2 separate regions of the Homo sapiens genome follow, and region 2 is linked to region 1. Evidence: fine-mapped expression QTL. Tissue or cell type: whole blood. Region 1 holds a variant in brackets; the other region holds the start of a gene. All regions are shown on one strand. Distances are between the middles of the regions. Region 1 overlaps GATAD2A (GATA zinc finger domain containing 2A). Region 2 holds the start of GATAD2A (GATA zinc finger domain containing 2A).

Region 1 (5,000 bases):
GAAAGCTGAGGCAGGAGAATTGCTTGAACCCGGCAGGCGGAGGTTGCAGTGGGCCGAGATTGTGCCACTGCACTCCAGCCTGGGAGACAGAGAGAGACTCCGTCTCAAAAACACAACACAACACAACACAACTACCAATAGCTCCCTGTGCTCACACTGGAGATCAGGACTTGGTTTCTGTGTGTGACATCTCAGAACTGTTCAGTGCCCAACACTGCCCTCATTTGAGGCCGTGCTTGAAGTGGCCCCACACCTGCGCCGCTGTTGGCCAGGGCCTGTGCCCAAGCCCAACCCTGCGGCCCCAGAGAGAGAAACAGACGCTGCCCAAGGAACACACGACATAGAAACAAAGGTGCCGCCTGTGAAGGGGGAGTCCGGGCAGTCTTAAACCTCCACAGGTAAATGGGGACCAGAGTCCCAGCTGTAGGACGTCACTGTGAGGGCTGGCCATGCTCCCCTTCTGTGGGAAGGGCCTGGCTCTCTGTCCCCTCCCAGATGCCTCCTGGACCGTGAGCCTACGTGGCCTACGAAGGGTTACGCCTGCCATTTCCATGCCATCTGCTACGTGCCCATCAGGCGTCACATCACAAAATGGGAGGCCTTAACCCTTCCAGGGCTGTAGTCTCTCAGGGCTGAGCCAGGCGAAGCTGTGGCCCTGACCACCAGCTCCATCAAGGCCTGAGACTGGAAACGGCAGGGAGGTCTGGCACAGAAAATTCCAAGGGCCAGAAAAGCCTTCTCAGTTCCTGGAAGGAAATGTCAAGTGGAAAGTGAGGGAACCAAAAATTCATCTGTTGCCATTTTCATCAGGGCACCCAGCAACGTGGTGACGCTGTGGGCTGGAGGCCCTGCCCAGGCGCCCTTCCTCAAGCTCCTCCCTACAAGCATCCTGCAGCATCACAGAGCCACAGGGAGGATCACAGCCAGCAGGGAAACCTACTTCTATGATGAAACAAACTATCTGCTCTCAACGCAGCCCCAGCCCGTGGGTCTACCCACAAACAATCCTTGCAGCAGGTTCCTGCACAGCTGTAAGGGCTGGGACAGAAATCCTACTTCTACCCTCTACCTTGCAAATGGAACTCTTCCCCTCAGGGGTGGGAGGAGTCTGTGTATAGACACCCACACCAACCTCTGGGCAACAGCTAAGCTCAGCTGTGCCATGAAGTGGGGGAGTGGGGGGTCTGTATCAGTGCTTCTTTGGTAAAACATGATACTTAATAATACGGAAGCAAAGCCCTGGCCAGAAGGTCCTGCTGGCCTGACCATAATCCAGCCACCCCTGTGCCCGTCCCCCAAGTCCAACCAACCCCTCTCCTGTTCTCTCAGCTGGAGCCACACTGACATCCTGGCTCACTCCCACCTCAGGGCCTTTGCATCTCCACTCCCCCAGGTCTCAGCTGATAATGCAAAGTGAGAAACGCTTCCCCTCCACACATGCCCCCCAGGGGGTCTCTATCCCCTTTCCTGCCTCATCACCACTTGACATGCTATTTATTCACCTCTCTGTTTGTGGGCTTCCACCCCCAGGATATCAAGGGACACCTATTTCTCTAGCACTACCATCCAAGGGCCCATGCAGGCACAATGCTTTGCACAGAAGAAGCAATGTATACGCATTTGTTAAACAGATTTGAAATAGTACTTTCAGAACTCCCAACTACCACTGCCCTTCAACCTCCTTCCCGGTTAATGCCAAAATGTCTTCATCCTGACAGAAAAGATAATGATCAAAACCAAACAAAACCTGGCCAGGCACTATGCAGTGGCCCACGCCTGTAATCCCAACACTTTGGAAGACCGAGGAGGGAGGATCGCTTGAGGCCAAGAGTTTGAGATCGGCCTGGGCAACATAGTGAGACTGTCTCTACAAAAAAATAAAAACAAAACAAAATCTTTACATCACCCCATATATGAAAATTAACTCAAAATGGATGAAAGACCCAAGTATTAGGAGCTAAATCCATAAAACTCTTAGAAGAAAAAACACAGGAGAAAAATGTCATGACTTGGTGTTTGGCAAACAGTCTTACATATAAGCACAATATCAAAAAAAGAAAAAAGATAATTTGGACTGCATCAAAATTAAAATCTTTTGTGCAAAGGGCATTATAGAATAAAAAAAAAAACACCCATAGAATGGGAAAAAATTATAGCAAATCATACACCTGATAAGGGTCTAGTGTCCAGAACATATGAAGGATCCTTACAACTCAGCAACAAAAAGACAAGCAACCCAATTAAAAAACAGCCAAAAGACTTGAACAGACATTTCTCCAAAGAAGAGAGACGAATCACCAATGAGCATGTGAAAAAGACTCTGTCTCAGTGTCATTAGTCATGAGGGAAATGCAAATCAAAACCACCATGAGAAACCGCTTCACACCCACTAGGATGGCTACAATCAAAAAAGCCAATTAAGTATTGGTAAGGATGTAGAGAAATTGGGACCCTCATACACTGCATAGTGCAAAGTAAAATGGTAAGAGTGACATGGAAAACGGTGGAAAGTAAAACGGTAGAGTGACGTGGAAAACAGTGGAAAGTAAAACAGTAGAGTGATGTGGAAAACGGTCTGCCAGTTCCTCAAAAAGTTAAACGCAGAGTTCCCACATGAGCCTGGGCAGGGCCTCCAGCCCACGGCATCACCATGCTCCCGAGTGTCCTGCAAGTCCACTTGTAGGTATATCCAAGAGAGCTGAATATAGGTATTCAAAAAAAAATGTGCAGGTGAATGTTAAAAGCAACATTATCCACAATAGCCAAAAAG[C/T]AGAAAACAACCCAAATGTCCATCAATGGATGAATGGATAAACAAAATGTGGTCCATCTAGACAATGGAATATTATTTGGCCATAAAAAGGAATGAAACTCTGACACAATGTGACTGAACTTTGAAAACATCATGCTAAGTGAAAAAAAGTCAGACAAAAAGGCCACATATTGCATGATCCCATTTATATGAAATGCCAGAAGAGGCAAACCCAGAGACAGAAAGTAGAATAAGTGGCTGCTGGGAGGGTGGAGAGCAGAGTCAAGGAAAAGGCAGTGACTGCTAATGGGGACAAGGTTTCTTTTGGGGTGGGGGTGATGAAAATGTTCTAGAATTACAGGTGATGGTTGCACAATACTGTGAATGGGTTAAATGCCACTAAACAACACACTTTAAAAACGTTAAAACTGGTGAATATTCTACCATGTGAATTTTACATGCTTTTTTAAAGAGGTGAGAAAAGAAAACAAAAACAAAAATACTAATTCCAATAGCCATGAACCCCTCTAGAGCTACTAAAATACTAACAGGCAAAAGCAGGTTTGCTGTGACCCCAACAGCACAGAACTGGGTCCTTCAGTAAACATGCTCCTTTTATACAACAAGACCCCAAACAACCACACTGCCATCAGCCATCAGCCATCAGGGTAGGCAGCCTCTATGTCACCACCAACCACGAGTCCTACAGGACAACTGCAGGAGGCTGCAGCAAGCCCACTGTACACATGGGAACTCAGAACCATCTCCCAGCTAAAGATCCAATGCCTGGGAGTATGAGAATGTGGGACACATAAGGGAGAATTCACCAAGGAGGAGCCAAGGCAGAAAGAGGAAGTGGCCTCAGAGGGCTGGAATCACAAGAGTTACTACCAGCAGAGCCCCACCTCAGCCAGGCCTTATCACAGGCCCTACACTGCCTAAAATCCAAATAAAACAAAACTGCCATGGTGGCTTTTTTTTTTTTTTTTTTAAGGGACGAGGTCTCACTCTGTTGTCCAGGCTGGAGTGCAGAGCCACAATCATGACTCACTGCAGCCTCAACCTCCAGGGCTCAAGCAATCCTCCCACCTCAACTTCCTGAGTAGCTGGGACTAAAGGCACGCACCACCACACCTGGCTAATTTTTGTACTTTTTGTAGAGACGAGGTCTCGCCATGTTGCCTAGGGTGGTCTCAAATTCCTGGGCCCAAGAGATCCACATGCCTTGGCCTCCCAAAGTGCTGGGACCAACAGGCATCATACACGGTGGTTTTACACTAACACACTATTGGGGAAGTGCCACAGGCCTCAACGTCACAAGGTGTTTCACTCATTTATTTGTCCAAATACCTGCTTAAGTTTCTACTTAGGGATCAGGGACACCCTTGGGGTGCCAACAACGATAGGCCTCCTACTGGGAGCTGCCTCAGGAGCCCCAAGGAGAACACTGGAGTGGGGGGCACAGCAGGCACAGCACATACCGGAGAGAGGCAGGGTTGAAGTCCCTCACACACTGTTCGCTGGGTCCCTAGATCACAACTCTAAGCACTACTGTTCACGAAACAAGTCATGTGCAAGTCCAGCTAACCACCTACTTTATCCACTCGTGATGGGCTACGACTGCTGTGGATGGGCAATACCAATGGGGAGGGGAGAATGGTTTTCATCATAGAGTCAGGGTACTGGAGTGGTAGTCAGATGTGCCCCAGGTACTGAGCAGGGAGGCGACAGGAAGGAGGCCCAGAAGCTCATGCCCTTAGCTGTCCAGTCAAAGCCAGAAAGCCTGATTCACCCACAAGGGCCTCAGCTTCCTCACCTGTAAAATGGGAACAGCACCCACTTTATTGCTAACACTTCCTGAGGGCTCCACGAAGAGTAGCTGTGAGTGTTGTAATTACAGAAAATAAGAGTGTGTAAGAGAGGCTGTCTGGTGGGCTGACAGGCCACGGTCCCCTCTGGCAATTCCAGTCTCTGCTCATGGTTTTCTGCTTGAATTTAAACTACTCCCAAGTGGTCTCCTAAACTACCCCCAAGTGGCCTCTACCTCAGCTTTTATAAATGGCCATTTCCCCTCTTCTAGATGATCCAGTCACGAAGCTCCCTGAGAAAAGACCTGGGCCAAACCCAATTTTCACACTTTTCTTTAAGGAAAATTTCAAATCCACCCACAGAGTAGATAATGGTGTGATTAACTGCAGGTGCTTACCACCCAGGTCCACGGCCATCGGGGACCACCCTCGTGTCCTCCACA
Region 2 (5,526 bases), 40 kb after region 1:
GTCCCCCTTCTTGTTCTCTGACCCCAGTAGGAGAAAGGTCCTTTCGGGCTCACCAGGTCACAGTGTCCTTCTCTCCTTGATCCCTGTAAGTTTCCCCATGTTTATAAGATTAATTACGACTCCTGGCCCACTAATCTCACTATAAACTCTACTGAGGAGGGATTCCTCGCAGTGTCGAAGGCACAGTATGCACTCTGATATTTGTTGAATATATCAATCTAGAAATCACTACCTGCAATGCCAGAAATTCAGAAAATAAATGATGCAAAACAAGTCAGAGGAGCTACTGAAGAGTTGAAAATTAGAGTATTTAAAACATGTTTCCTCATTAAAAACATACACACACACGCAAAATACAGAGACACTAAAAAGTTTTCTAAAAAAGAAAAACTATTGCTAATCCTAATGTAGAGACCTTTATTGACATTCTGGTACAAATCCTTCCAGGATTTTTTCCTACCGAAAGTAGCATTATATTTTTCCCTCACTATCAAAATATAAGATTATAGGATTTGCCAAATGATACTGCATTAATAGAGATGACTTGACATTTTAAAAAATGATGTCATCTGAGTGGAAATAACAATGCATCCGCCAGGCGTGGTGGCTCACGCCTGTAATCCCAGCACTTTGGGAGGCTGAGGTGGGCAGATCACGAGGTCAGGAGTTCGAGACCAGCCTGGCCAGCATGGTGAAACCCCGTCTCTACTAAAAATACAAAACTTAGCCGGGCATGGTAGTCCCAACTACTCGGGAGGCTGAGGCAGGAGAATTGCTTGAACCTGAGAGGCGGAAGTTGCAGTGAACCAAGATCGTGCCACTCCAGACTGGATGACAGAGCGAGACTCCGTCTCAAAAAAACAAACAAACAAACAAAACACACTGCATCCAAATCTTTCCATTCTCTATAGCCCTTCCAAGATGAGAAGCAATCTTCATAAAAACCAGCTTCGGAATTTTATGAGACAAATAAGAACTGAAAGATGAAGGAGGGGAGGGAATAAGTGAAGACAGAGGATACAGAAAATCCCTTGCAAATTTCCCACATCCTATAAACTGTTTCCTCTAGAAAAGGGCCAACTTTTCTGAGTCCAAAGCTGAAGAAGCGAATGCAAAGTAGCAACTAACTCTGTAGTTCAGTTCCTTAAAATCCAGCTGGTAACGCTGCTCCACTAGAACAAAGCAGGGCTAGCATGGTGTCCCCATGTCACCAGATTATCCCCTACATCCGCAAACAGAGGTGCCCTGGATCCTGGACAAGAAAATGGCCTTGTATTTTAGAAGCGCCAGGGAAATGCTCACTAGGGTTCGCAAACTGCAGCATTTGTGGGCTCTAGAGCACCAAGTACGGGCTGCCTGGCTCTGCCTCACTACTAAGAGGCCTTGAGCAAGCCGCCTGGCCTCCAGCAGCCCCAATTTCCTGACCTGTAAAGCGCAGATAATACTTCCCTACTCCCCACGGGATTGTTATAGGCACTGAATATGTCTGTGCAGGGGAGCTTAGCACACAGTAGGCACTCAAACCCGAGGGCTAGTATGAGCTATCAGCCCTCCACAGCTTGTGGTCAGGTCTGACAAACTACTGCTTAGCATATGTTAACAAACTGGTGCCAACAAACATTATTTCATGTAATCTAGTTTAAAAGAAAACTTGTAACGACTACCAGAAGAGTTAAGTCAGTCAACAGGACTACAGTCCAAGACTGAGACACCCGCACAGAGGGCTCTCAGTTTCTGTGCTGCCACAGCCAGGAGGTGTCACTGTGTGAATGGGCACACAGAACCAGAGATGTAACCAGCACTATGTACTCCAAGAAAACTGAAAGAAGTAAACTGGTAGGAAGAAAGAAAATTAAAGGCTCAAGTGACTCACTCGGACTTTGATCTAAAGAATCCACAGCTCTTAAGATAAGGATGAACTATACACCTAAAGACGTTAAGTCAGACCTACAAAATTTTGCCCTGTGCAAAATTCTCAGGGCAGAAACACGCACCTAAGGGTTGTCATTCACTTCCTAAGGGAGGGGTCACCATTCATTTCTGGGTCCCAGTGTGCGCACAATCCAAGTGTCCGTCAGGCTCTCAGCCTGGGCCCTGCCCATAAGCCTTTCCTTGTTGAAGTGATCAATTCCGATTCTTGGCAATAATCCCTTTAAAAGGCCAGCTGCTGCTGTCTAGTCACTGATGCCGACCCACTCTAGGTGGGAAAAAAGAAATCAATGGAGCCACCGCCTAGATGGGGAGGCAAATTTAAAGTGTCGGGCCTTGAGAAAGGCCGGAGATCAGAGAGGGGAAAGGGTCCCGCGGCTCCCGGGGGTTAGGCAGGAAGGGCGCGAGCTGGGGGAGGGCCGGCCCTCCAGGCGTGGGCGCGCGGGGACTCTTATTCTGACACGGGATCCGCCGCCGCCGCCGCCGCCGCCGCCGCGGGGTTCAGCGTTGCTGCCCAACCCGCCCCGGACCCCCGCCCCTGAGCGGGACCCCCGCCCCGCGCGCCCACGTGCCGTCTTCCCGCCGCCTCCACCCGTCCCGACCACTCGGAAGAGGCGCCTCGCGGCCCAGCCCTTCCCCCGACCCCGCAGGAAGCGCAGGACGGAAGCGGGGCGACGCCGCGACTTTCCGGGACCCCCGCCCGGCCCCCACGTGCCCGGGCCGCCTCGGGGCAAGGAACTTTCCAGGGCAGCGCAAGAAGACGCTCCCAGAATACAAGGAGTAGAACTCGCTCGCTCTCACTTTTCCACGCTCATGCAGGGGTCCTTCAGAGCCCCCCGAGGCCCCGACCCTGCGCGGCCCGCGCCGCTCCAGTCTCAGCCGTGCGTCCCCAGCCCCCGCCCCCCGCCAAGTTTGGTCCAGAACTTACCGGGCCGCGGGTCGGCCGGGCCCTAGGGCAGCGCGCAGGTTACGGGGGCTGCTGGTCCGGGGTCGCCCGCGGGGCCGGGCGGCGGAGGGGCCGGGGACGCCGGGCCGCGCGCGCTCGTTCCGCCTGTGGGGCCGCCCGGGCCCGCGGCGCTCGCTGCGCCGGTCCGCCCGCCCGCCCGCGCCGCCGGCCAGATAATGCGCCCCTCGGCCGCACACATGGAGCCCGGCGCCGGCGTCACCGCCCGGGACATGCGCACCAGGTCAGCGCGCCCGGCCCGCGGCCCCCAAAACACCGGGGAGCTCTTAAAGGCGACGCCGCCCGCCCGCGCCCGGCTGGGCGGGGCGTGGCGACCGAGGGGCGGGGCCTGACGAGAAGGGAGGAGCTCGTGGGCGGGGTTCCAGGCGTAGAAGGCGGGCCCCTGAGTTGAGGGGGCGGGGCCGGACGGTACCGCCCCGGAAGCACCGCCCCTCTCCGGCGCGCTCCCACGCGACACCTCGTTGGGCGCGCTGGTTTCCCACGCGGGCTCCGGCTGGCTCCCTCCCCGCCGAGTCCCAGCGCCCTCCGCAGGCCGAAGGGTCGTGGCCAACTCACCGGCGGCAAAGCCGGGCGGGCCGCACCCAAGGCTGACTCACGACGCGCTCACTGCTGACCTCGCGCCAGCTGAGCTGGGCGACCTCAAGCAACTCAGGGTTGCCTCTGAAACGCGGGTTAGAATGTCACCCCCGCGGGGTCGTCACGCGGAAGCTCTTCTCTGGGAACTTCGGCCCCGGTGTCTGTGGGGAGGGCGGGGTGTGGATCGGCTGAACGATCACTTCTCCAGTGCAGTGAACAGAATTCTACAAAGAAAGCTCCAGACCCACCCACCTCAAGACACTTGGGGACGACTGCTCTCCCTCTCCAGTTACCTCCCAATCTGCCCTCGTGCCTCAGGGAGAAGGTGAAAACCCCTCAAGAAAGCAAATCTGCACCCCTCCCTCTCCAGTAACAAGGAGGAAACACAGGAGACAGAATGAAAGCCTGAAAGAGAATGGACTTTGGAGATGTTAAACTACATAAAGCGAAATACAATTTCAATAGGGAAAATATCAAGTTCATGGAAAATCTACCACAAGAAGGCTCTCAATACCAAAATCAGGTTCTGAGGAATCCCCAAAACCGCCTCTTTTCATGTTGTTTTAAAACAAACGATTCCTGATGAGACACCTAGACTCCTGAAGAGTGGTGGTGACATGCTTTATCGCATACCCTAATAAATCTATATGTACAACTGAAACAAAAGTTTCACCAAACATAAATTTACCACATGCAACGTACTGTTTTCTTTTTTCTTTTTTTTGGAGACAGAGTCTTGCTCTGTCGCCAGGCTGGAGTGGTGCAGTGGCGCTATCTCGGCTCACTGCAACCTCCACTTCCCAGGTTCACGGATTCCCCTGCCTCAGCCTCCCCAGTAGCTGGGATTACAGGCGCGTTCCATCACACCCGGCAATTTTTTTTTTGTATTTTAGTAGAGACGGGGTTTCACCATCTTGGCCAGGATGGTCTCCATCTCCTGATGTCGTGATCTGTTCGCATCGGCCTCCCAAAATGCTGGGATTACAGGCATAAGCCACTGCACCCAGCCTGTACTGTTATTTCTATTCTACTTCATTTGAAAAGAAAATCAATGTAACGCCCAAGAATAATTGGGTCTCAACCGCAAACCTGAAAAACACTTCATGTAGAACAAATTTTACAAAATTGTTTTTCTAAAAAAAAAAAAAATTGTTTTTCTGCTGTATGTCCCCTTAAACAGAGTTCAAAAAAGCTCCTAATTCTGTGTTGAGTTCTACATACAATTGTCAACTTTTTGTAGTTTATTCCACCCCGCCACCTCACACCTCCCCAAACACACCGCCCTGCCCCCCAAAATCTTCCCACTACTTAATGCAACATCTGGCACAACCTCCCCTAGGCCAAAAGAGAATTCAACCTAAAAATGATACAAAATACAAACTGTTGACTCCCAATCACTTTCCCTGACCCAGTTATGTCACCAATTTGCTTTGCTTTGCTACAAAGAAATTCAAATGTTCAAATTCAGAAACCAAACAAACAAAACAGTCTTATTCTCAAACAGGTGACTCGGTATAGGAATTCAAAGAGCTCCCTGATCCCAAGCGCAAGGTTGGTTTAGGGCAACCATCCAGGTTTTTCACCCTAACATGGTGGCTGTATATTTTAAGAACTGCTTCATGCTACGATCATTAATCAGATGATGTATATTAAAGCAATACAAGCAAACTATTACCTCACTGCTCCTCACCTGGGTCTTGATTAATGTCAATTTAATTAACTACAAACAGAGCAAAGTGTGGTCAGGTGGGAGACCTGACACTTGAGACAGATATACAGATTCCAGAGTTTGAGCCAGCAAGCCCTGTGTGAGTCACCAGGGTGACAACCACCCCTTTTTTTTTTTAAGAGGGAGGCATCAACTGCAACACATTAATGACACACCCCTGTGGAGTGAGGGGTGCACTGGTGACAGGGCCTGCTCCAGAGGGCAGTGCCAACTTCTCAGCCAGGAAAGTCGGACGGGGAGTAGGAGGGGTGCAGGGTATGTAGGTGGGGTGAAATAGCTACAGGGTTTATTTCTGTCTGTCATAGGAAGACAGGGTCAGATGGGTAGA

What was found. PIP is the estimated chance that this variant, and not a neighbour inherited with it, causes the effect.
Region 2: GATAD2A starts here. The variant in region 1 is fine-mapped to the expression of GATAD2A in whole blood (INTERVAL, PIP 0.94).

The regions. Positions count from the first base shown.
Region 1 is chr19:19,443,613-19,448,612 of GRCh38, reverse strand. All of the region lies in intron 1 of GATAD2A (GATA zinc finger domain containing 2A), which reads right to left. Among named protein-coding and RNA genes, the nearest start is that of MIR640, 11 kb to the right of the region's middle. RefSeq lists an enhancer at 2,493-2,612. The variant C/T (reference allele first, on the strand shown) is at 2,771.
Region 2 is chr19:19,403,351-19,408,876 of GRCh38, reverse strand. GATAD2A (GATA zinc finger domain containing 2A) reads right to left here and starts at 3,202. Exons shown (of 12, transcript NM_001384528.1): 1 at 2,858-3,202. RefSeq lists silencers at 2,331-2,410, 2,971-3,520 and enhancers at 2,231-3,137, 3,641-3,700, 3,138-4,046.